Linked DNA regions of Homo sapiens: all the other regions are linked to region 3. Evidence: fine-mapped expression QTL. A gene starts in region 3. Each other region holds a variant in brackets. All regions are shown on one strand. Distances are from middle to middle.

The links.
Region 1: its variant is fine-mapped to the expression of GALNT6 in anterior cingulate cortex (GTEx, PIP 0.95).
Region 2: its variant is fine-mapped to the expression of GALNT6 in testis (GTEx, PIP above 0.99).
Region 4: its variant is fine-mapped to the expression of GALNT6 in whole blood (TOPMed, PIP above 0.99). The same link has a PIP of 0.9 or more in hypothalamus, prefrontal cortex and spinal cord.

Annotation. Positions count from the first base shown.
Region 1 is chr12:51,351,101-51,357,184 of GRCh38, reverse strand. GALNT6 (polypeptide N-acetylgalactosaminyltransferase 6) reads left to right here. Exons shown (of 12, transcript NM_007210.4): 11 at 1,227-1,379; 12 at 2,693-5,933. The coding sequence ends at 2,806. Among named protein-coding and RNA genes, the nearest start is that of CELA1, 7.5 kb to the right of the region's middle. The variant C/T (reference allele first, on the strand shown) is at 2,643.
Region 2 is chr12:51,366,140-51,372,223 of GRCh38, reverse strand. All of the region lies in intron 4 of GALNT6 (polypeptide N-acetylgalactosaminyltransferase 6), which reads left to right. Among named protein-coding and RNA genes, the nearest start is that of GALNT6, 22 kb to the left of the region's middle. RefSeq lists enhancers at 344-910, 2,749-2,898. The variant A/G (reference allele first, on the strand shown) is at 3,466.
Region 3 is chr12:51,387,946-51,394,029 of GRCh38, reverse strand. It overlaps GALNT6 (polypeptide N-acetylgalactosaminyltransferase 6), which reads left to right and starts at 2,624. Exons shown (of 12, transcript NM_007210.4): 1 at 2,624-2,743; 2 at 3,093-3,180. It also overlaps a transcript of SLC4A8 not described here. RefSeq lists enhancers at 144-233, 2,277-2,861, 2,862-3,447, 4,409-4,498, 5,524-6,023 and silencers at 2,052-2,591, 5,631-5,925.
Region 4 is chr12:51,357,506-51,363,589 of GRCh38, reverse strand. It overlaps GALNT6 (polypeptide N-acetylgalactosaminyltransferase 6), which reads left to right. Exons shown (of 12, transcript NM_007210.4): 7 at 2,752-2,869; 8 at 4,258-4,458; 9 at 5,329-5,460. Among named protein-coding and RNA genes, the nearest start is that of CELA1, 14 kb to the right of the region's middle. RefSeq lists an enhancer at 5,737-5,786. The variant T/C (reference allele first, on the strand shown) is at 2,745.

The sequences.
Region 1 (6,084 bases), 37 kb after region 3:
GGACATCCGGAGAGAACGAGGCATCGGTGCTGGGTGTGAGAAGGGGATGGGAGGGAGGGTTGTTCATCAGAGGAGGCTTGAGGAGGCTAGCTGCTGGGGGATATTTAGGGGTGAGGGTGGAAAATTTTCCAGCACATCCCATCACCTGCACTCAACTTCTATCTTCAATGCATCCTCTGCCCAGAAGCTACCACTCTGATCCTACCACCTTCCAGTGACCCCAAAACTAGGTGCCCAGCACTAGTAAGTGAGAGGCACTGAAAACAGAGCCAGAGTGGGGAAAGGAGTGGTGTGGGTCACTGAACAAGCCCGCTGGCATATGTAGGTGAAGACAGTCATTCTACAGCAGTTTCCTGTACCACTGGCCTGCAAGATGATTTCCAGTGGTGCACTGGAGAACATTTTTTATTTTAATAGTAATGTATTAGCAAAAATAGAACAAGCATATCACATGATTTCACGGATGTTACTTAAAATGAGGCTAAGTTAAATTGAATTTTAATCTAATTTAAAGGAAATATGATTAGGCACGGTAGCCCACACCTGTAATCCCAGCACTTTGGGAGGGTGAGGCAGGTGGATCACATGAGCCTAGGAGTTTGAGACCTGTCTGGGCAACATAGCAAGACACCCCATCTCTATAAAAAATTTTTAAAAAATTAGCTGAGTGTGGTGCTACACGCCTGCAGTCTCAGCTACTCAGGAAGCTGACATGGAGGATCGCTTGAACAAACGAATTCAAGGTTGCAGTGAGCTATGATCATGCCACCACACTCTAGCTTAAGCAACAGAGCAAGACCCTGCCTCAAAAAAAAAAAAAAAAAAAAAAAAGAGAAAATATACTGGTTGGGCGCAGTGGCTCACACCTGTAATCCCAGCACTTTGGGAGGCCAAGGTGGGAGGATCACTTGAGCTCAGGAGTTTGAGACCAGCTTGGGCAACATAGCAAGACCCCATCTCATAAAAAAGAATTTTATATACATATACATATATATATACACACATATATATATACACACACACATATATATATATGTATATAAAATTCCAGCATAACCCTGATATGGTAACAATCCTGAAGGCAGCACATAAATGAGTAAAGTCTTGGCATGGCCTCACATTCACTCTCCTCCCCAGGAGACCATGCATGGTAGACAGCTCAGGGCAGGTGGCTTTGGAAGGCTGGGGGTGAACTCTCCACCTGCTTCTCTTGTCTTGATTTCCAGTACTTTGAGTACACAACTCAGAGGGACCTTCGCCACAACATCGCAAAGCAGCTGTGTCTACATGTCAGCAAGGGTGCTCTGGGCCTTGGGAGCTGTCACTTCACTGGCAAGAATAGCCAGGTCCCCAAGGACGAGGAATGGGAATTGGCCCAGGTGAGTCAGTGTCCAGAAAGCTCAGAATCAAGAACTTGAGGCCAGGTGTGGTGGCTCACGCCTGTAATCCCAGCACTTTGAGAGGCCGAGGAGGGCAGATCACGAGGTCAGGAGTTCGAGACCACCTGGCCAACATGGTGAAACCCCATCTCTACTAATAATACAAAAATTAGCTGGGCATAGTGGTCGGCGCCTATAATCCCAGCTACTCAGGAAGCTGAGGCAGGAGAATTGCCGGAACCCAGGAGGCGGAGGTTGCAGTGAGCTGAGGTCGTGCCATTGCAGTCCAGCCTGGGTGACAGAGCAAGACTCCATCTTGGGAAAAATAAAAAATAAAAAGAGAACTTGAGGCCACATCGGCCCCTCTATATTTTCTTCATTTTCTTCCTGAGACGCCATGGGGTGGAGTAGAGCAATGTAGAAGGTAGGTGAGTGTGTGTGTGGCCACAGGCAGGGTTCTTCAGGCTTAAAGGGTATTTGGTGATGACTGATGTAAAAATGGGGTGACAGGTTATGGTTCGTGGCTAGCTCTGCCATGGCTGAAGCATTTTTAGGCTGAACCCAATTAGAAGAAGGTGAAGAGTCATTCATAGTTCCTGCTTGTCCTCTGTGTCCTAGGCTCAAAGCTAGGCACTCACATGCCTGGGTCCAGTTAATCTTTCAGAGGCTCTTTCCAAGCAGGAATAGTCACTGTTTCTACAGATGAGCTGGAGCCGGAGGAAGCCCAGCATGTCTGTGACTGGCCCAAGACCCATCACTAGTAAATGGCAGGCCTGGGATTTAGCCCCAGATGGGTCTGACTTGAAAGCACGGGCTCTTTCCATTACACCACACTGCTCCAGGATATGCCATGTAACCGCCACCATGCTGAGCTCAAGCCAGCACCCCAAGTGAGCCTCCCTACTCCACCCCAGCTTAGGAAAGAGGAACCTAACCTGGAGGCTGCAGGGAAGGGAGCAGTCTAAACATAATCCAAGGCAGAAAATTGGAGGTGGAGCAGTGGCCCTGGGTCTTTGAGCCTGGCCATCTGGGGGTGCGGGAGGCCCTGAAAGCATTTTTCTCTCAGCCCATGGTCTTGTCTTTCACCATTTCATCCACTCAGTCTGAAGCTAGGGATGGGGATTTGGCACCAGATAGAGGTGGGAACTCAGGAATGTGTCTCATGAGAGGGCAGGAAAGGAATGGGGAAGTGTCCTCTTTGTGCCTTGTGGGGTTCCCTTGGCTTTTGTCAATTGCACCCCATCGCATTGTCCCTGGTAGCAC[C/T]GTTAAGAGGTCTGTGGCCCAGACTGACCTTTTGCTTTGTCATCTTTTAGGATCAGCTCATCAGGAACTCAGGATCTGGTACCTGCCTGACATCCCAGGACAAAAAGCCAGCCATGGCCCCCTGCAATCCCAGTGACCCCCATCAGTTGTGGCTCTTTGTCTAGGACCCAGATCATCCCCAGAGAGAGCCCCCACAAGCTCCTCAGGAAACAGGATTGCTGATGTCTGGGAACCTGATCACCAGCTTCTCTGGAGGCCGTAAAGATGGATTTCTAAACCCACTGGGTGGCAAGGCAGGACCTTCCTAATCCTTGCAACAACATTGGGCCCATTTTCTTTCCTTCACACCGATGGAAGAGACCATTAGGACATATATTTAGCCTAGCGTTTTCCTGTTCTAGAAATAGAGGCTCCCAAAGTAGGGAAGGCAGCTGGGGGAGGGTTCAGGGCAGCAATGCTGAGTTCAAGAAAAGTACTTCAGGCTGGGCACAGTGGCTCATGCCTGAAATCCTAGCACTTTGGGAAGACAATGTGGGAGAATGGCTTGAGCCCAGGAGTTCAAGACCGGCCTGAGCAACATAGTGAGGATCCCATCTCTACGCCCACCCTCCCCCCGGCAAAAAAAAAAAGCTGGGTATGGTGGCTTATGCCTGTAGTCGCAGCTACTCAGAAGGCTGAGGTGGGAGGATTGCTTGTTCCCCGGAGGTTGAAGCTACAGTGAGCCTTGATTGTGTCACTGCACTCCAGCCTGGGCAACAGGTAAGACTCTGTCTCAAAAAAAAACAAAAAAGAAGAAGAAAAGTACTTCTACAGCCATGTCCTATTCCTTGATCATCCAAAGCACCTGCAGAGTCCAGTGAAATGATATATTCTGGCTGGGCACAGTGGCTCACACCTGTAATCCTAGCACTTTGGGAGGCCAAGGCAGGTGGATCACCTGAGGTCAGAAGTTTGAAACCAGCCTGGACTACATGGTGAAACTCCATCTCTACTAAAAGTACAAAAATTAGCTGGGCATGATGGCACGCACCTGCAGTCCCAGCTACTTGGGAGGCTGAGGCAGGAGAATCACTCGAACCCAGGAGGCAGAGGTTGCAGTGAGCCAAGACAGCACCATTGCACCCCAGCCTGAGCAACAAGAGCGAAACTCCATCTCAGGAAAAAAAAAAAAAAAAAAAGTATATTCTAACAGACAGATCAGAGGTCTAAGAGATCCTCCCTTGCTATTATTACCTGAAGTCTGTAGAACTGTTTACAGATATCTCCTTGACAGGTGTCCTTTATCTTACTTTATCTGTACAGTAATCCTGTGAGAAAGACAGGACAGAAACCACTGTGCCTATTTTACAGATACGAAAACTGAGACACAGGTAAAGGGGCTTGTCTGTAGTCCCATAGCTAGCAGATGGCTGGAGCCAAGACTGAGGCTCGTTCTTCAATGCTGAGCCAGGGCTCCTTCCGCTGCACCACAAGAACGCTAGACCACTCGCCACCAGCCTTCTCATTCCCTCTTCCTCCATTCTAATCATTTCTAGCTGGCTGGCCTCCACAGAGCATAGGAAAACAGCCAGGGCCGGGCACGGTGGCTCATGCCTGTAATCTCAACACTCTGGGAGGCCGAGCCGGGTGGATAACCTGAGGTCAGGAATTCGAGACCAGCCTGGCCAACATGGTAAAACCCCATCTCTACTAAAAATATAAAAATTAGCCAGGCATGGTGGCGCACACCTGTAATCCCAGCTACTCAAGAGGCTGAGGCAGGAGAATTGCTTAAATCTGGGAGGCGGAAGTTGCAGTGAGCCAAGATCGCGCCACTGAACTCCAGCCTAGGCAACAAGAGCAAAACTCCATCTCCAAAAAAAAGAAAGGAAAAACAGGGCCAGGTAGCCATTGTGGAGAGAGCACACTTAGGAATCCTGGGATGTTAGTGTTAAAAGAAAGCTCCTGGAGCCAGTGATTCTCAGGTTTGTCCCAGAACCCTTTTTTCTAAGCCCCATATAAAAGGTAGATTAAAAAAACAAAGTAGCATGAGTGAAATTGAGAGAGGGACAGGTAATGCCTTCCAGCCCCTAACTTCTAACAATCTGGAAGCACAACGTGAAAATCACGTAGCCCAACCCTATCATTTTCATATTATGAAACTGAGTCCAGGTAAGTGAATCTGTCCAAGGTCACCCAGCAAGGTATCAGTAGCCCTGAGGGTAAGGACTCTGATAAGGCTCGGGAGGGTCCTGGAAAGCCTGAGGCGGCAGGAAGAGTGTGCAGAGTTGAGCGTGTCTGGAAGGCTGATCCACTGCTGGGCCCACATCAAAGCCCCCATGGGGAGCAGACCCGACTGCACATGGCTCTTTTGCTGGAAGAAGAGCATGGCTGCGCAGAGGACTAAAATTTCATCTGGGAAGGCTTCTTTTGACTGTCAGTAGCAGGATGTCACCAGATGAGGGTGCTATGGGACCACAGCTGTCTTTGTTCCCATTGCAACTCAACCCTGCGGGAGGCCGCCTACATCCCTGAGAGCCTTCTGGAGCCTACAGAGGAGACATTGGCCAGCCAAAAGGAAAGGAGTGGCCAGGGTACGACCTGGAGTAGGGAAGGGAAAAAGTTCCCGGAAAGAAGAGAATTGGATGAGAGGTCTCAGTGGAAATAAAGGTTTTCTGGCATTGGTCAAGGAAACTCGCGTTGTGTTCTCTTACCTGTGTTGTCCCTTAGCTGAATCAGTTGATTTGGGCTATGAAGAACCACACACATCTGAAAAGTTCTGTTACAGCCACTGTCTCATGTCCCCAAACATTCTCTGGCCCTAAATCTAGCTTATGTATTGTGTCAAGCACGTGGAGACGTGAGACGTCAAACGAGGTCCTGTCCCCGTGGAACTCACACGCTAAATGTAAGCAAATCATAGCAAGCCTGGAGATGCTCCAAGAGGTGCTGGATGAGTTAGAAGGAGCAATTCCTTCCACTTAGGGAATCAGATAAGGCCTCACAAAGATGGCAATGTTTGACCTAAGACCTCGGAAGATGAGTCCTCAGATGGGAAGGGCTCAATAAGCAGAGTTGTTACACAGGCAGCAGCCTGGCAGGAGCAAAGCCACAGAGGACATGTGGCCCCAGTGGGTCTGAGAAACCCAGAGGACATTGGGGTGAGGGAGTGACTGGTGTAGAAGCTGGAAGATCAGAGTTACATCATGAATTTCAGGGGCCCTAGGCACTTTAGCCTTCACGGAGCTCTTGCTCCATTCAAAAAAAAATTAATGTTATGACTATGTTGGTATAAAGATGAATGTAATCCAGGCTGATTGGATTTACTTTATTTCTTCTGGTTTTAAAAGAAGCTAAAACATTTCTATGGGCCCTGGGCACTGCACCTGCTGTGCCTACTGGGTAACTCAGCCCCGTACAAGAGTGGGTTGGGGCCCAGTTGAGAGAGGCTTTGGTAGGTCCG
Region 2 (6,084 bases), 22 kb after region 3:
ACAAAAACAAAACAATCACCTGCCTGAAAAACCTAAGCTAGTCATTCTTATTTTTCTGGGTCCTGGCATCCTTTCAGAATCTGTTAAAATCCCTAGAATAGTGCACCACTGCCCACAATAATATGCAAAACCCACATTTTTGCATTTAATTCCAGGGAATTTGTGGACCCTATGATAAACAACCCTACCCAGAGGGCTTTCAGACGCTAGAGATACTTTAAGCAACATTCAGTTCAGTGAGGAAAGGAGGAAAAAACCCTCAGATCCATGGTCAGAAATCTCTGCCGTCCACAGTGGGATAAAATTTCCCACACGTTTGACTGTTTGATCAGATTAACCAGCTCTCATTACACACACACACAAACAGGACTGTGTCTCTGCCGAAATACAATGTCCCTGCTCTCTGACCTCCACTCCAGGCACCCAGTAGTAGCCCTATGAGAGTGAGTCTAAGGGCATTTGATACCATGGGGGAGGAGACCGCGTGCTGAGCTGGGGAGCTTTTTCTTCCCCACCTCTGAGTCAGAACCAGGGCACAGACCTCATTCCTGAGTGGCTAGGTCAGCAGCCAGGGTTCCCTCCCTGTCTGGCACACTCCACCAGCTTAACTAAATTAGAGGGAAAAAAAAGAAGAATGCAGGGCAATGGGTTAGTGAGTGAGTAATTAGGGAGCTCTTTTCACCGGAGTAGCCAGGAAAGACTACTCTTAGTACTCCCTGCAAAGGGAGCAGCCAACACAGAGGCCTGAGGCTTGACTTGTTAATGAGGCAGAAAGAAGACAGTGTGGCTTAAACAAAGTAAGCCAGGGAGCAGAAAGAGTGCTGGTGGAGTGGGTGTAAGGAGCCGGGCCCATGGCTCATGCCTGTTAATTCCAGCACTTTGAGAGGCCGAGGCAAGAGAACCCTTGAGGTCAGGAGTTTGGGACCAGCCTGGCCAACATGGAGAAACCCCGTCTCTACTAAAAATACAAAAATTAGCCAGGCATGGTGGTGGGCACCTGTAATCCCAGCTACTCAGGAGGCTGAGGCAGAAGAATTGCTTGAACCCCGGAGGCGGAGGTTGCAGTGAGCTGAGATCACACCATTGCACTCCAGCCTGGGCGACAAGAGCAAAACTCCATCTCAAATAATAATAATAATAATAATAATAATAATAATAATAATAATAATTTTTTAAAAGGCTAGCGGGACCAAATTGTGAGACCTCCGTAAGCCACCGACAGTGTTTGGATTTTTCATGTGTGTATGTAGTAAAAGGCACGACATAAAACGTATCATCTTCACGGTTTCAGTCCACAGTTTATTGATTTTAAATGCATTCACATTATTGTGCAACCATCTCCGGAACTTTTTTTTTTCCCTTTTTTAATAAGATGGGGTCTCACCATGTTGACCAGGCTGGTCTGGAACTCCCAGCCTCCCAAAGTGCTAGGATTACATGCGTGAGTCACCACAACCAGCCAATAACTTATTTTTTGTCATCCCAAACTGAAATTCTGTACCTATTAAACATGAATTCTCCACGCTGTCCTCCCCACAACCCCTGGCAACCACCCTTCTACTTTCTGTCTCTATGAATTTGATTATCATAAGTGGAATCATACAGTATTTGTCCTTTTGTGACTGGCTTATTTCACTTAGCATAATGCCTTCAAGATTCATCCATGTTGTAACATTTGTCAGAATTTACTTTATTTTTTTTGAGATGGAGTTCGTTCTTGTTGCCCATTGGCGCAATCTTGGCTCACCGCAACCTCCACCTCCTGGGTTCAAGTGATTCTCCTGCCTCGGCCTCCCGAGTAGTTGGGATTACAGGCACGTGCTGGCTAATTCTGAATTTTTAGTAGAGACAGGGTTTCTCCGTGTTGGTCAGGCTGGTCTCGAACTCCTGACCTCAGGTGATCCACCCACCTTGGCCTCCCAAAGTGCTGAGATTACAGGCGTGAGCCACCAAACCCGGCCCAGAATTTACTTTTTAAGGCTGAATACTATTCTATTGTATGTATACACCACATTTTGTTTGTCCGTTCATTCGCTGATGGACACTGAGGCTGTTTCTGCCTTTGGCTATCGTGACTAATGCTGCTGTGAACATTGGTGTGCAAATATCCAAGTCTCTGCTTTCAGCTCTTCAGGGTATATGCCCAAAAGTGGAATTGCTGGATCATATGGTAATTCTGTCTTTAGTTTTTTTTAAGGAACCATCATACCTTTCCATAAGGAAACACCATGGATTTGTTTTTAAATACAATTTGAAGCCGCTGTAGTGACATGATCTGATTTATGATTTTTAGAGAGAATTTTACTTCTCACAGTAGCTGCCGTGTCAAGAATAGATTGAGGAGAGTGGTATAGAAGGCAGAAAAGCAGTGACTGTGGGGATGAGAGAGAGAGCTGGCAGTACCTGCAGATGTGCTGATTGTGGAAGGGGACAGCAGGGGGGATTCTAGCATGACTTCCAGGTTAGAGCAGCTGGAGGGATGCTGGCACCGTGTACTGACGTGAGGGAGACTGGGGGGCAGATTTGCAGGGGAAATTCAGAGCCTGTTTTGGGCATATGTTGAATTTTCCATTTTGTTCCACATCCAAGTGAAGATGGCAAGGTCAGGAAGGAATCCCTGGGAGCCATCTGCATGATACTTCAGATCATGGAACTGAGTGCGGTGTCTGTGTTGGCATCCCAGGGGTCTTGTGGACTTGAGTTGTGAGGAGTGAAGCTGGTTGGGGTGGTGGGGTGTTGAACCTAAGTTGGAAGGCTGTCACGGCGGGGACATGAGTGTGTGGCTGGGCTCACCGGTACAGCTATGCTCAGCTCCAGTCTCCTCAGTTCTGGGTCTGTCCAGTAGGTCTGGGGGTGGAACAGGTGGAGTATCACGAGGGGCATTGCTTAGGGGAGTTGTCTCCCCAGAAGGGCTTGAGGCCAGAGGCTGGAAGCCTCTCAGGCTGAGAATCCCTGGGTCTGGCCTCACCAGACTGGAAGGAAGGCGTGGGAGAAGGGCTTTGTAGTGCTCGGGGCCCCCCCTGAGGTTCACAGCTCAGTGCTTCACTGTCTCTCACCACAAAACCCACTTCCTATGATGTTTTGTCCGTGGGTTATCTCCACTACCGTGAACTTCCTGTGCGCAGAGCTGGGCAAGCTCTCGGGGAAACACAGCAGCCATGCTGAGGAGCCTGGGCTTCCTCCCTCCTTCCTGTCAGGGCCAGCACCCGGGGCTGCAGGTGCACTATGAGTCTCAAAGGGCAGGACCCAGACCAGGCCCCTCCCTTCCCAGAACAGCATCTGGCACCTGGCAGCACATTGACAGACATTTGTGGAGTGAGTGCTGGGCTGAGGCTGCTGCATGAGGCTGATTTTGATTCCTGAGGTCCTGGCCCCCAGAGATAAGAGGCCTCATTCCTGGAGTTAAGTAAGATACAGCCCCCTCCTCAGATGACTGCCTGAAGAATCCATTCATAAATGAGCGCC[A/G]TGTCATAATCACCTCACCTGTCTGTCCAGTAGGATTGAAGAAGGAAAAAGTGGGCGGGGCGTAGTGGCTCACGCCTGTAATTCCAACTCTTTGGGAGGCCGAGGCGGGCAGATCACTTGAGGTCAGGAATTCGAGACCAGCCTGGCCAACATGGTGAAGCCCCATCTTCACAAAAAATACAAAAAATTAGCGGGGCGTGGTGGCAGGTGCCAATAATCTCAGCTACTTGGGAGGCTGAAGCAGGATAATTGCTTGAACCCAGGAGGTGGAGGTTGTGGTGAGTCGAGATTGCACCACTGCACTCCAGCCTGGGCGACAGAGTAAGACTCTGTCTCCAAAAAAAAGAAGAAAAAAAAAAAAAACATGGAAAAAAAAAGAAGGAAAAAGCTGAAATTCCAAATTATAGAGACTTTCCTTCTCCTAGGCGCCACTCTCCAGGACAGTGACTAAAGAACAGCTTCAACAAACCCCTTTCTCTCCCTTTCCCTCCCGGGATCTCACACACAGGGAAATGGCAAGGCCTTGGGTGACTGCGAGAGGAAGCAGAGACCACCTTGAAACTCGGGTGCATTAAGTCCTTGGCCTTCTCATCTTAATCTGCTCCAGAATAAAAAAATTTAAAAAAAAAAGTCCGTGGCCTCACTGGTGGTCAAGAGACCACCTTGAAACTCAGGTGCATTAAGTCCTTGGCCTTCTGATCTTAATCTGCTCCAGAATTAAAAAATTAAAAAAAAAAAAAATTCCATGGCCTCACTTCCCCTGGAGGGAGAAGGTGGGGAGTCCTCACATGCAGACTGGCTAGGATCCTGCTGCTGCCCTTTGTGCTTCTGCCACCCTGGGCTAGTCACTTTGAGTCTTACTTTCCCCATCTATAAACACTGGGGACAATACTCCCTGTTTCATAGAGTTGTTAACTATCATAGAGAAGATTAAATAAAGAAGTCACCATGAAGACACCTACCTCACCCACACCGGCACACACTCCAGCTCAGTGCTGGGTTATTGTGTGCGTGCATTTGTGGGAGATCAATTGCATGCAACCCCCTAAGCTGCTTAATTTCAGGACCTGCCGTTTGTAGAATGCTGCATTCAGAGCAAGGCCCAAGCTCTGGGCTGATCCCACAGTCCAAAAGGAAAAGGACACACAATTGTCACATCTGTCCCCCACATCTGAAACTGCAGGCAACTCCATTCTGCACAGAACAGAACCGTGGCAGAGATAAACCAAAATGGCAGTTAGTAAAACATAGTAAGGTTTGGAATTCGGTATGTTTCAAGATGGACTGCTTCAGAATAGAGCTATTCTTCGTTTGTTTTTTGTTTTGAGACAAGTCTTGCTATGTCACTCAGGTTGGAGTGCAGTGGCATGATCTCAGCTCACTGCAACCTCCACCTCCTGGGTTCAAGCAGTTCTCCTGCCTCAGCCTCCCGAGTAGCTGGGTTTACAGGTGTGCGCCACCACACCTGGCTAATTTTTGTTTGTTTGTTTTTGGTTTTTTTGAGACGGAGTTTCGCTCTTGTTGCCCAGGCTGGAGTGCAATGGTGCAATCTCGGCTCACTGCAACCTCTGCCTCCCAAGTTCAAACGATTCACCTGCCTCAGCCTCCCGAGTAGCTGGGATTACAAGCATGCGTGCCCAGCTAATTTTGTATTTTCAGTAGAGACAGGGTTTCTCCATGTTGGTCAGGCTGGTCTCGAACTCCCAACCTCAGGTGATCCACCTGCCTCCGCCTCCCAAAGTACTGGGATTACAGCCATGAGCCAGCGCGTCTGGCCTAATTTTTGTATTTTTAATAGTGGCAGGGTCTCACCATGTTGGCCAGGCTGGTCTCAAATTCCTTGGCTCAAGTGATCCATCTGCCTTGGCCTCCCAAAGTGCTGGGATTACAGGAGTGAGCCACCGTGCCCAGCCAGAATAGAGCTATTGTTAATGCTCTGAGGATTTCAGACTAAATTACAGGGCCATGAACTAAAACTCTTCTTTGAAAGGAGCTGGAGGTCTCAGTAGAGACATCTTCCCTTCAAAAAGCTTTCCCCGCTCCTCAAATCCAGGAGATTTGGCCCTTCTTTGGGACCCACACCCCAGCACTACCTCTGTTAGATCATGGATCACCTGCCCTGGAATTGCCTGTTTCCTGGTCAGCCTTGCTTCTGGGTGGTTTGTTCCTTAGGACAAATGGTCAAGCCGGCTGGGCTCGCCACTGTGCCTGGTCCGTGGTAGGTGCTTGGTGCAAGTATTTTCTTAATATAATTAAAAAGCTGCTGGGCATGTTTTCACCTTAAAGAATTCTATCTGCAGAGGAGGTTACAAAGGGGATTAGAGTCAGATGTCCTGCTGCTGATCCAGCAAGCAAGGAGTCACCATTTGTGTATGCCCACCCATCGACGTTACCGTGAAGAGCCTGGGAGACAGGGAATCCTAGACACTGGAAAACAACCGTGCAATGGAGCTGTGGAATTGCAGCTCTGGAAGATGGTGGCTGAGAGGGTGGAGAAACTGAGGGAGGCATCTGAGAGCCTCTGTCAGAATTTTGTACTTGGGCCGGGCGTGGTGGCTCATGCCTGTAATCCCAGAACTTTGGGAGGCCAAGGCAGGCGAATCACTTGAGGCCAGGAGT
Region 3 (6,084 bases):
ACGGTAGGTCCGACCTGTACAGGGAGTGTTCAGCCCCAAGAAGAGAGACATGAGGGGCAGCATCCCACAATCTTCCACAGGAAGTGCCCTCATTCTGAGAAAGACAGCTGTCAAGTAAGGCACATGACAAGAATAGAAGCAGCTGGGGCAGTGAGGTGGAATCAGAGTCCAGAGGGTCTACAGATGGGCTAAGGGATGCTCAAGGAAGCTCTGTAGAAAGTCTCTCTAGGAGCTTAAAGCCCACGGCCTGGAATGTGAAAGGAAGGGAGTTGGTGGAAGGCTGCTTAGAGTTAGGGGAGTCGGGCATCATGCCAAGAGTGAGCAGATGAACCCCTTTCTACTCCTGGGAGAATGTCCATCCTTCACGTCACTCTGATCATGTGTAGCTGGGCAACTCTTCTTCTCCACACTCTGCTGGCCTTCTCTCCTGACTCCATCAAAGAACATCTCACCTTCTGAATAGATCAAACCTACCTTGGAGTCTCAGGTTAGAAAAAAAGATTACTTTCTTCATTCACCTGTTAACACCCGGCTGGCTTCCCTGCCTTTCCCAGTGCGTGTCAGAACTTCTTGCTAGGATCTACTCACTCATGCTCCTGCTCCCAGGTCTTAGGGTCTTAGAAATACAAATTCATGGCTGGACTCGGTGGCTCATGCCTCTAATCCCATCACTTTGCGAGGCCGAGGCAACAGGATGGCTTGAGCCCAGGAGTTTGAAACCAACCTGGGCAACATGGCGAAACTCCCTCTCTACAAAAAAAAGTTAGCTGGGCATGGTGGCATGCATCTGTGGAGGCTGAAGCAGGAGAACAGCTTGAGACCCGGAGGTCAAGGCTGCAGTGAGCCGTGATAGCTCCACTGCACTCCAGCCTGGGCAGTAGAGCAAGAAAAGAAAAGAAAGAGAGAAAGAAAGAGAAAAAGAAGGAAAGAAAGAGAAAGAAGGAAAGAGAGAGAGAGAAAGGAGAGACAGAGAGAGTAAGAAAGAAAGAAAAAAGAAAAAAGGAGGGAGGCGGGGCAGCAGAAAGAGGAAGAAAACAGAAAGAAAGAAAGACAAATTTATTTAAATATCAAAACAAAAGAGAAACTGAACTAGTGGTAGAAGTTTCTACCATAGAAAGTTTTCAAATTATTGGCTATTTGGAGTCATGCGCGCTCCTTCTCTGTTGCTAAGGCCCCAAAAGATTGCAGCACACGAGGCAGCGCCGGAGAGGACCACTGAGCAGCACGGGCCCTGGCGGGGTAATTCCGAACACCGGCTTAGGAGGCGGGTTTACCAGGATTCTCATTCCAGCCCTGCCACTAATTGTTCAGGGTTCTCAAGGTCGAGCATGCACAAAATCACCCGGAGGGCTTTTAAAACACAAGTCGCCGGGCCCAACCCGAGTTTCGGAATATTTAGGTCTGCGGTGGGGCCCATTTCTTTTCTTTTCTTTTCTTTTTTTCTTTTTTTTTTTTTTTGATACGGAATCTCGCTCTGTCGCCAGGCTGGAGTGCAGTGGCGTGATCTCGGCTCACTGCAACCTCCCCCTCCCGAGTTCAAGCGATTCTCCGGCCTCAGCCTCCCGAGTAGCTGGGATTACAGACGCCCGCCACTACGCCCAGCTAATTTCTTGTATTTTTAGTAGAGACGGGGTTTCACCATGTTGGCCAGGCTGGTCTCGAATTCCTAACCTTGTGATCCGCCCGCCTCGGCCTCCCAAAGTACTGGGATTACAGGCATGAACCACCGCGCCCGGCCAAAATTTCTAATAAGTTCTCAGGTGATTCTGACTGGCGCTGCTGGTGGGGGATCCCACTTTGAGAAACACCCTCTGCTGTGTGAGCAGCTGCCTCCCCGGTACATTCGGAATAATCATAGTAGGTTTAAAGTTTGCTGGGGCTGGGATTCACCTGATACCTGGCACTTGGAGCCCTTGACACAGTTCATGGCACACGGAATACGAGCTCTTGTTGGATGGAGCACAAATGAGAAGCAAACCTGGGGCAGGACCCCGGGGCCCATGGCCGCCCCGCCGCGTTTCCCCCTCCGGGGCAGGCCTCCGGGCTCCGAGCGCTCCAGGCTGGCGCGCAGCACATTCCGGTTCCATGCACCCGCCGCCCGCGGCTCTGCTAATGCCTGTCCTCTTTGGGGTGACTAGGACCCTCCAATCTTTTTCCGCGCTGAAAGCCTGGCCGCAAAGACCGCACCCCCGGGGCGGGCTGAGACGCAGAGAAGCCGGGGCGCCCCTCTGCCGGTCCGCCGGGAGTTCCCGGGCCCGCAGCAGGCTGAGGACACGGCGGGACCCGCTGCACCTGGCCAGGGAGGGGCGGGGCGGGCGCGTTAGTGCAGCTGGGGGAGGTCCCGCCCCGGTCCCACCCTCCCGGCCGTCCGGTGGGGAAACCCGGGAGCCACCCCGCGGCGCGGCTGCGGCTTTGCCTCGGCGCGACAGGTAAGCGGCAGAAGGAGCCCGCGACCCTCTCCCCGGGAGGGCCCCCCTGAGCTCCCCGACTGCTCGGACTTCCCTTCGGCGGATCTCGCTTCTGCCGAGTCCTCGCTCTCACCTCCTCCTCCGCCAGCCTTCGCCTCTTCCTCTTCCTCCTCACTACCCCCGACAGTAAAATGAAGGGGCTGGGCCAGGCTGGTCCCTCCTGCCTTCGCTCTCTGCTGGTCGCGGTGGCCTGTAGCTCCTCCCTCGGTAGGACCCCCCTCCACCTTGGCGCTTACGAGATGAATGAGGAGCCCAGACCTCTGGAACTTGGAGGGGTGAGAGGGGGACAAGCCAGAGCCAGGGCTCCACACCCTCTTCCCCTCACCCACCCATGCCCTGCATTCCTTCTGTGCCCCGTCTCCCCAGATCGGGCCACCCCATGTGCTCTGGTACGGCAACTCTTGCAGAGAGGTTTCCTCCTGCCCTGCCACGTTGCGCCTGAGCAGAAGGGGACAGCAAGGAGAAGCCTCGCTGGTGGAGGTCGGTCTGAGCCCTGCTTGGTTGAATTCCCTCCAGAGCCTGGGGGCTTTTGGGGGTGGGAAGGGATCTGCCTCCTGCTGTGGGGAAATGGAATCTGCTGGGTGTTCATGACTGTGACTGTCACCGACTTCCCTATTTCCTCAGTTGTTCAGATTCCCAGGCTGACAAAAAGGAGAAACAGCTTTTACTTGCATCCAGGGCCAATCATCGCAGACCCAGACGTCTGCAGAGGGTAGGATGGGGCTCTTCTGTGTATGGGGGTGGAGGGTGGTCAGTTTGCCCACAAAGCTTACAGCAGACCCCTTCTAGCAGCCGACAACCCATTGCAGCACTCTCAGAAAGGATGTTAACTCTGTGCTCTGAGCTCGCCCCCAGGCCCACACACACAATTTACAGGCACTGGGTGAGGTTCATAGTTCTGGACACACCAAAGAGCCTCGAGGACTTTTGCGCCTTCTACCAGAGATGTGTGTGCACCACACAGGCCCTATTCTCCGCTCCAGACAGATGAGCTGTCTCCCTTCCCATCAAAGGAAAGGTTAAGAAGGATGAGACAGGGAAATTCATGTGATGATGAAAACCAGGTCAGGTGAGGGGTTTGAAATATGCTTTGGTTCCGGCCACATGTGGTGGCTCATGCCTGTAATCCCAGCACTTTGGGAGGCTGAGGCTGGTGCATCACCTGAGATCAGGAGTTCGAGACCAGCCTGGCCAACATGGCAAAACCCCATCTCCACAAAAAATACAAAAAGTTAGCCGGGCATGGTGGCAGGCGCCTGTAATTCCAGCTACTTGGGAGGCTGAGGCAGGAGAATTGTTTGAACCTGGGAAGCAGAGGTTGCAGTGAGCTGAGATCGCACCATTGCATTCCAGCCTGGGCAATAAGAGCAAAACTCTGTCTCAAAAAAAAAAAAAAAAAAAAAAAGAAAGAAAGAAAGAAAGAAATATGCTTTGATTCCAATTGCCTAGCAGGAGCCAGTAGCATTGCAGGCATTTCCCTAGCTCCAGTTCCTTAATGGTGCCATGCACTTTAGGAACCCAGAGGTAATCAGAGAAAGTTGCTTCCAGGGGCACCAGGGCAGAGAACAGGACAAGACCCTCAAAAGAAAGAGGGAAGTGTGCAGGAGACTGGGCTGCTCAAGATGACCTCACCTCAGTAATGCTGCCCACAGTCCTACAGTGGGTGGAACAGCTGACTCCTACCTGTAGCAGCATGGAAGAACTCAGGGCAGAGAAGGGGAGGCCCTGATGTGTGTCAGGTGCCCTGTGAGGTCAGAAACATATTTGCCCAAGTTCAGCTGGAAGAAGTGGGGACAGGAAATATGAGCATGAACTTAGTCCATGCAACCATTGCCTCGAACAGACCTCAGGACCAGGAGGGGCAGCTAACCCTAGGGCTGAGGGCCTCTCAGTGCAGGGAGGCAGTGAGTATCATGAAGGCAGGCAGCTGACTCAGCCCTGTCACTAACTTCGATATATAATCTTAGCCAAAACACATAAACACTCCCTGGGTGGGGAGCAAATGAGAAGGTGTATATGAAGTGTTTTGGCAAAGCTCCAAGCACCAGTCAAATGCAAGACAATGTGATGTCATAGTTAAGAGAGTGGGCTTTGGAGATACATAGGCCTGAATGCAAATTCTGCCTCTGCCACATTTCTAGCTGTGTGACCTTGGTCAAGTTACTTGACCTCCCTGTGCTTCAGTTTCCTTCTGTGTAAAACAGAGAAGATAACTGTAACTTGATTTGATATGGTAAGCAGTAATATTTAAAATGGTGATGGTATTCTTCTTAACATTTTCTGGCTCCCACGGATGTGTTCCGACATCTCAGCCCTGGAAGGGATGCTGAAGACCAGGTTGGGTGTGTCCATGCCGTAGCTTGGGTGAACTCAGCTCTTTACACAGTCCTCTGCCCCTTTCTGGGAAAGCCCAAATGTTCATTCTCATTTGATAGGAACGAGAGTGAGGATTTGAATAAGCAGGAGGTTAAGTGCAGGGCAGTGCCTGTCTCTGTGTCGAGCTCAATGTTGTAATTGTGCTGTGTAAAAGGCCTGTGTGGTGAACAAGGGTGAGCTCACTCCAGGGAGGAGAAGGACTGTTAGAAGACTTTTGTGGCACCTGACAGCCCTGTGGGGTCAGCTTATTCTCTCGTACCCTGAACAACTTGGTCCTAAGGCCTAGGTAGAGATTTGAAGGAAGAAAGCAACCCAGTCCTCAACTCTGCACGTAATAGAGAATGAAGAACAGACTAGCAAAATAGCATTGCCATACATCTCAAGGCAGAGAGATGCGACAGGGATTGGAAGGCCAGGTAGATTGGTCAGGAAGAACATTCTGGAGACAGAAGTTTGGGGACCAAGACTCAAGGATTGGGAAGGAGAAGGAAATAGGATCTAGGTGGTCTACCGTCTAGGCCTGTTGGTTCTCCCTTCTCCATGATAGTTAGTGGGGAAATCCCACGTAAGGAAAGCACGGGTAGTAGAGAAACTTGGGAACAAATAACACCTAGAAACTGAGGCAGCAAGATGCACCTTAGTCTAGGAAGCCTTCTTGAAAGAGGGGAGTCTCTGGTAAGAATTTGAAAGAAAAGAAATATGGCTTGCTTAGCAAGAATATAAGGGAAAGGCTTTGAGGAAGAAAAGATAGCCAGTGAGTGCCAAGCATCTGGTTGGGCTTGAGGGTGAGCAGCAAACAGGAAGCAACCCGGCCAGCCCCTCTGTGTTTCTGCCACAGTCAAACAGTGCTCAAGGAATATGAATACGGCTGTCCTGATTGTGAAAGAGAGAGAGGGGCCCGAGGCAAAGGAGGCTGGCAGGCAGCTCCTGCTGATCCTCCAGATGCTAGTTGATAAAGGCCCAATTTCAAATGAAGGTTTTGAAAGCAGAAAGGACAGTGAGGAACCCGGAGGCAGGGAATGAATCAGCAGGACTTGGGAGCGGGTGTGGGGTGAACCTGAAATTGAGACAGGATTAAAAACGACCTGTCTGAGAGTGGGACAGGGGCTGGCTTGTTTCACGGACTTCAATGCTTCTGGCAGCAATGGGGAAATTGGGCAGGCTGGCTAGCAGAGGAGGCTGGGCACAGACCCTGAGCCCAGGGGATGGTACATTGAGTAGCCAGTGGCCCCGGGTGAAA
Region 4 (6,084 bases), 30 kb after region 3:
CAGTTGCCCTGAACTTCTTTGGTGAAGGGCCAGATGATAAATATTTTGGGCTTTGCCAGCCACATATAGTTTGCTGCATATTCTTCATCTTATTTATTTTTTATTTTTTTTACAAACATTAAAAAATGTAAAAATAATTTTTTGCCCCAGAGGCTTCTAAAACCAGGCAGCCAGATTTTGCCCACAGGCTCTTGTGTGCCAGCCCCTGAGCTGCAGGGTAGACAATTGGAAGTCAACCCACAGTTTAATGCCCACTGGGCTCACCTTTCCCTCTTATACTCACCCCATCCTCCCCTCTCCAGGCAGCCTGTTGGTGTTATTGGAGACTGTAAGTTTATTTTAACAGTTGTCTCAGACAAACCAAGTTGAGGAGTGACTTTTAGTGTAGCCTGTGGTTTGGGATTATTTGTGTCATTGTTATCTTAGACTGGCCAGTATACTTAAGGCTCAACTGAATATACATCCAGGACGGAGGGATGCAGAGGTTGGAGATACAGTAGCCAGAGATAAGAGGGAAGGTTTGAAAGGAGGAAAGGATTGGTGCTTCTTCCTCTCCACGTGCCCAGAATCCTAAAAAATGCTGTCCATGCCAGGCACAGTGGCCCACACCTGTAATCCCAGCTAGATGAGAGGCTGAGGTGGATTAGGTGGATTGCTTGAGCTCAGGAGTTTAACAACAGCCTGGGCAGCATAGCAAGACCCCATCTCTTAAAAAAGAAAAAGAAAAAAAAAAAAACCTGCTCAGAGTCCCAGTAGAAAGGAACTCAGGTGAATGCCACAGGGAGAAATCCCACAGATCCTGAACAGCCAGCTGCTCTGTCTCCATTAGAAGGAGAGAGGGAAAGGAAAAGGCAAAAGAGAGAAAAGAAATTGGAACTTTCCACTGACCCAATGTTTGTTTCATAGCTGCCTTTTGTTTGGTGTGCACTGCAACAGATCCCCACCCCCACCCCCATGCCAGTGACCAGGCACACAGCAGCACAGTCAGAAAGAGGGCACCTGGCCCCCACCCATCACTGACGTCGCAGGCTTCAATGTCCAAGGGCCATACAACTGGAAGACAAAGCTCCAGTGTTTGAGGAATGAATGTGCTCCTTGGCCCACATGCCCCGGTAGCATGCATGGCTTGCCGAGGCTCTTCATGTAGCGCCCCCACCCCAGGAGGACTGCTGACAGTCCCCTCCCGGCCTCCCATCTCAAGCCAACCAGAGCCTAAGAGGAGAGGCAGAGGACCTGGGGGATTCTAGGGGTAGGCCAGGACATAAAGGGTGTTTACTAGAGGTTGCCTGTGGTTGTGAATTTACAGTGAAGCTTCCCATGCAGGGTTTGTCCTCATGGCTAATCCATCAGTGACTTCTCGGTCTGGGAGACTTCTCAAAGACAAGACTCAGGGCCTGTGGGGGAGGAAGCAGGTTGGCTTCCAAGTGCTCCTCTGCAGTTCCAGCACTCTCTGAGCCTCTCAGGGTGCTACTTGTGCCGGTTTAAGACCCCTGGGAGAGGCCAGAGCCTCTTCCAAAGTGATAGGAAGCCAGCCTGAGCACGACTGAAATTCCTTCCAGAAAGTGGCTGCAGGAGCCAACTTCAGGTAGACAAGAGCAACCACAGGGTAACACCAGGGTCACATTCCTGGGTAGGCACCTTGATGGATCATGCGAATGAACAGTGATTGGGCCCCAGCTGTGTGTAAGGCACCTAGATAGGTTCTGGGGTTACAGGGGTTCTGTATCTTTCTGCTTGGTTGTACCACATGAAGCTGCCCACTGAGGGCAGCAAAGCCCTAGCCATGCCAGGCTGGCCCAAACAGAAACCAGCAGCTGATGATTGTGCTCCTGCCATGTCTCACCGGCCCCCACCCCAGCATTCCATCTTGCTTATACTTCCCCGGGTCCGCTTCGATACCCTAACGCTTAGCCCAGTCCCTCTTCGAAGCAACCTGGTATCTAAATTCTAGGAATTAGATGTTTTTGTCAATTTATCTTATCTTGAGTCCACACCTCCCTGCCTGTGTCTGAAAGCCAGAATCTTTTTATAACCTTCTAAATGTTCCCTGTAGCCCAAATTGAGCTTGATCTCACCTGACCTTCCACTGTTTCCAGGAGCACCTTTTATCAGCTTTCTCTGTTAAAAGCAACTGGCAACTTCTCCCCAAATCTACAGTTTCTCATGCAGTGTAAATCACCAGGGCTAGGCGCCTACTAAAACTGTGGCTTAATAGTCCCTGAGGGGCAGGGGCCCTGAAACAGAATGGAGTCAGCCCAGCTGACAATATTCATTCATTCATTTATTCATGGTTTGAATCCTGCCTATTTTCAAAAACAATTTCACACAGCTTCTGAAAGTTGAGTATCTCCTAGGCTCCAGGCACTTTGCTGCCAAAAAGTAACTAATGGTAGCTTTAACCTCTGTGACTAGATTGAGCTCTGGGGGAATAGGATCTGTCTTTCTCCGTTCTGTGTGTCCATCATGTAGCACGGGCCCTGGTGGCCAGTGTTACGTGCATCCTAGGTTGAACGAATGAATGAGTGCCTTTTAGAGGATAATTACATATTTCCTTGACCTGGTCCTAGAAGGGGAAGAGGACATAGTAAAAGCTAAATGATGAGTGAGTTAGTGGATGAGGGGCTGCACGTCCTGAGAAAGAGGAAAGGAGGGGGAGGTGGGTTAGGAGGGGAGTCCACAAACAGCTTTCCCCGCCAGGCTCCGCTCCTCCTCTCCCAGAAGATGCACACACTTCTCCCTCTGTC[T/C]CTCCAGATCCCCGACGTTTGCTGGTGGCCTCTTCTCCATCTCCAAGTCCTACTTTGAGCACATCGGTACCTATGATAATCAGATGGAGATCTGGGGAGGGGAGAACGTGGAAATGTCCTTCCGGGTGAGAGTGAAGAGGGCTTTGGGGGGAACCACAACATCCCAGGCGACAGCTTGAGAAACATCTCTCAGGCAGAGGTGGCATCAGGGACATCCCATCTGGAACTGAACTAGAAAGGGTGGCTATTTCCCAGTGTGTCTCTTCCTCTTTTCTGCTCCCCCTGTCCATGGCAGTAGGGCTTGGGCAGTCAGCCTGGACAGCTCAAAACAAACTACTGGGCACAACTTCTCAGAGGCAAGGAATAATAGGGGTAATGAGGACTGGACATCTGGTGACTGGGGACTCTTTTGCGATGTCTGTGGGAAAGGGTTAGGGTGAAGATAGAAACAGGTTAGTATGTTCACAACTAGGGCTAGAAAAAAAAAACAGATGAGTAACCAGTCATCATCCTTTTTCTGGAAAAATCAGGCTCCCCTTCCCAGTTCAAAGGACACATGCCCTGGTAACCTTTGAAGTTTCCCTACCTATGTACAATAAGCCCTTCATAACAGTCAGAGAAGATGGTGGCCCCAACTCTGGTGGACCCCAGAACTCTGAGAGATTCCAGGAATTAGGCAAATCAGGATTAGGTCAGGAAGCAAGGATTGCCTCTCCATGAAACCTACACAAATCTCCATGCCATGGAAAAGTAATTAGTAAGTAGATGAGCTCATTTATGAAGTCACCTCTCACGGTGCCTGATGCATATTAAGCACGTAATTGATGCCTGCTGTTACTATAACGATTATGTATTTCTGTTGCTGCCACACTAAAATGAATAACAACATACTTTCCCACCTAAAACCCAAAAGAAGAAACCAGTGGGAGGGATGTCTTCAGCCAGCCCACCAGCATAGAAAAGGGTCACCTGCCAGTCACCCCAACTCCCAGCGGCCCAATCCTAGGCTCCTCCATGAGCCTCTGACCTCTGTTCACCTTCCTAGGCAGCCAGTGTGCTAAGGGCCCAAGTGACTACCACTAGCCACCTAGCAGCCAACTATCCTTGCTATTAATTAACAGACTGATGCTCTGGTTTTTATCACCTGAGGGAGCTGATAAACTCACATTTCCAGGTCAAAAAGCCAAGTGATCAGAGCTCAGAGTAGGTATACAGGCACAGGTAACAAAAATTAACCAGCAGGCTTTTCCCTAAAGTGGGCCCTGGTAAACACAGGACCCTGCAGTCTCCCTGTGCTTAAGTCAGAGTGAACCAACATCAGAAAGCCTGGGATCGTGTAGTCATGGCCTAGGAAGAAGCCTGGTCGGTATCCTTTTTCCCAGGGAGAGAGAGCAGCATTTGCCCAAGTCCTTGGACCTGGGGTCTGGTGCTCTGGGAATAGAATAGAGCTGCTTATGGGGAGACTGTCTCACCTAGCCCACTGAAGGCCTCATCCTGTCTCCTCTTACATCAGGTGTGGCAGTGTGGGGGCCAGCTGGAGATCATCCCCTGCTCTGTCGTAGGCCATGTGTTCCGGACCAAGAGCCCCCACACCTTCCCCAAGGGCACTAGTGTCATTGCTCGCAATCAAGTGCGCCTGGCAGAGGTCTGGATGGACAGCTACAAGAAGATTTTCTATAGGAGAAATCTGCAGGCAGCAAAGATGGCCCAAGAGGTGAGAGGAAATGGTTCTCGGAGAGGTTTAGATGAAGAGAAGTACGGCCCCCAGACCCTGTTCATGGGCCTAATGGCTGGGACCCACCTCATCTCTACCATCTGGCGCCTCCCTTCACCCTCAGGGACCTGTGAGCTAGAGCCCAGGAGAAGGCCACAAGGCACATAGGTTTCAAAAGCTAGAGAATGTTGTCCCTACGCATAGAGTCTCTGCATCCCTTTGGAGGGGAAGGGAGGGAAAGGAGATTTGGAGGAAAAGCCTCTTACGGAGGCTTTGGAGGCTTTGGAGGAATGGCTCTGAGAGCCTCGGCACTGGGGAGTGGGACATAATTGTCTGGGGAGTCACAGGAGATGGACCGATAAGCAGGGGACTCCAAAGCTAAGGCGGGGTTTTTGGGATTGGATGTGAGGGCTGGGCCAGTATCTTTAACAGGTCCTGAGTGGGAATGAACATGAGAGACAGTAGCCCCAGGCGCTCCATGCTATCTGCACTACTTCAGCCCAGACAGGAAGGTCAAAGACTGGTGGAACTGGCTGGGTGTGGTGGCTCACGCCTGTAATCCCAGCACTTAGGGAGGCCGAGGCGGGCAGATCACCTAAGGTGAGGGGTTTGAGACCAGCCTGGCCAACATGGTGAAACCTCATCTCTACTAAAAATACAAAAATTAATTGGGCGTGGTGGTGCGCGACTGTAGTCCCAGCTACTCAGGAGGCTGAGGCAGGTGAATCGCTTGAACCCAGGAGGGGAAGGTTGCAGTGAGCCGAGATTGCACCACTGCACTCCAGCCTGGGCAACAGAGTGAGACTCCCTCTTAAAAAAAAAAAAAAAAACTGGTGGAACTGATCCTTAGGGGGCTGGCTTGATTGACAGAAATCCTTCGGTGACATTTCGGAACGACTGCAGCTGAGGGAACAACTGCACTGTCACAACTTTTCCTGGTACCTGCACAATGTCTACCCAGAGATGTTTGTTCCTGACCTGACGCCCACCTTCTATGGTGCCGTAAGTCTTGAGAACCAACCTGCCTGCCCATCACCACAGCACCCCTTGGAGAAGTTCAAGACCACTGACCCCACAGATGGATGACAAACAAGAATTGAGTTTTGCCCTGCACCCTCCTTTATCCAGGAGGAGGACTGAGAGGCCACGTTGGGGCTTCTAGAGATAGCAAAAAACCTTATAAAGGGCAAAACAACCCACAAGCAGTGGTCCTGAAACATTAGCATGCATCAGAATCACCAGGAAGGCACGGTAAAACGCTAGGGCCCATCCCCAGAGTTCCTGATTCAGAAGGACTCAGGGGAGGTCTGAAAACTTGCATTTCTCACGAGTCTCCAGGTGATGCTGATGGTCCAGGGCTCACATTTGAGAACCACTGCTTATAAGGAAACTCCCACGTGCTGAGGGCTTCTTCCAGGGACCTGGCATCCTGGGAGGTTCCCTGCCTGCCCCACAGAGGGGTTCAGTCCTGCCCTTTCCAGCCTCTGGGGCTCTGCAGCTCACTTTGCTGTTAGCTCCAGGCATGTGGGTTAACGCACAGAGGAGAGAAATGACGGGGGAAATCCAGCCATGCAAATTTGTTGCAGTTGACTGGAATTTGTTCCAGTGGGGCCCCATACCACACAT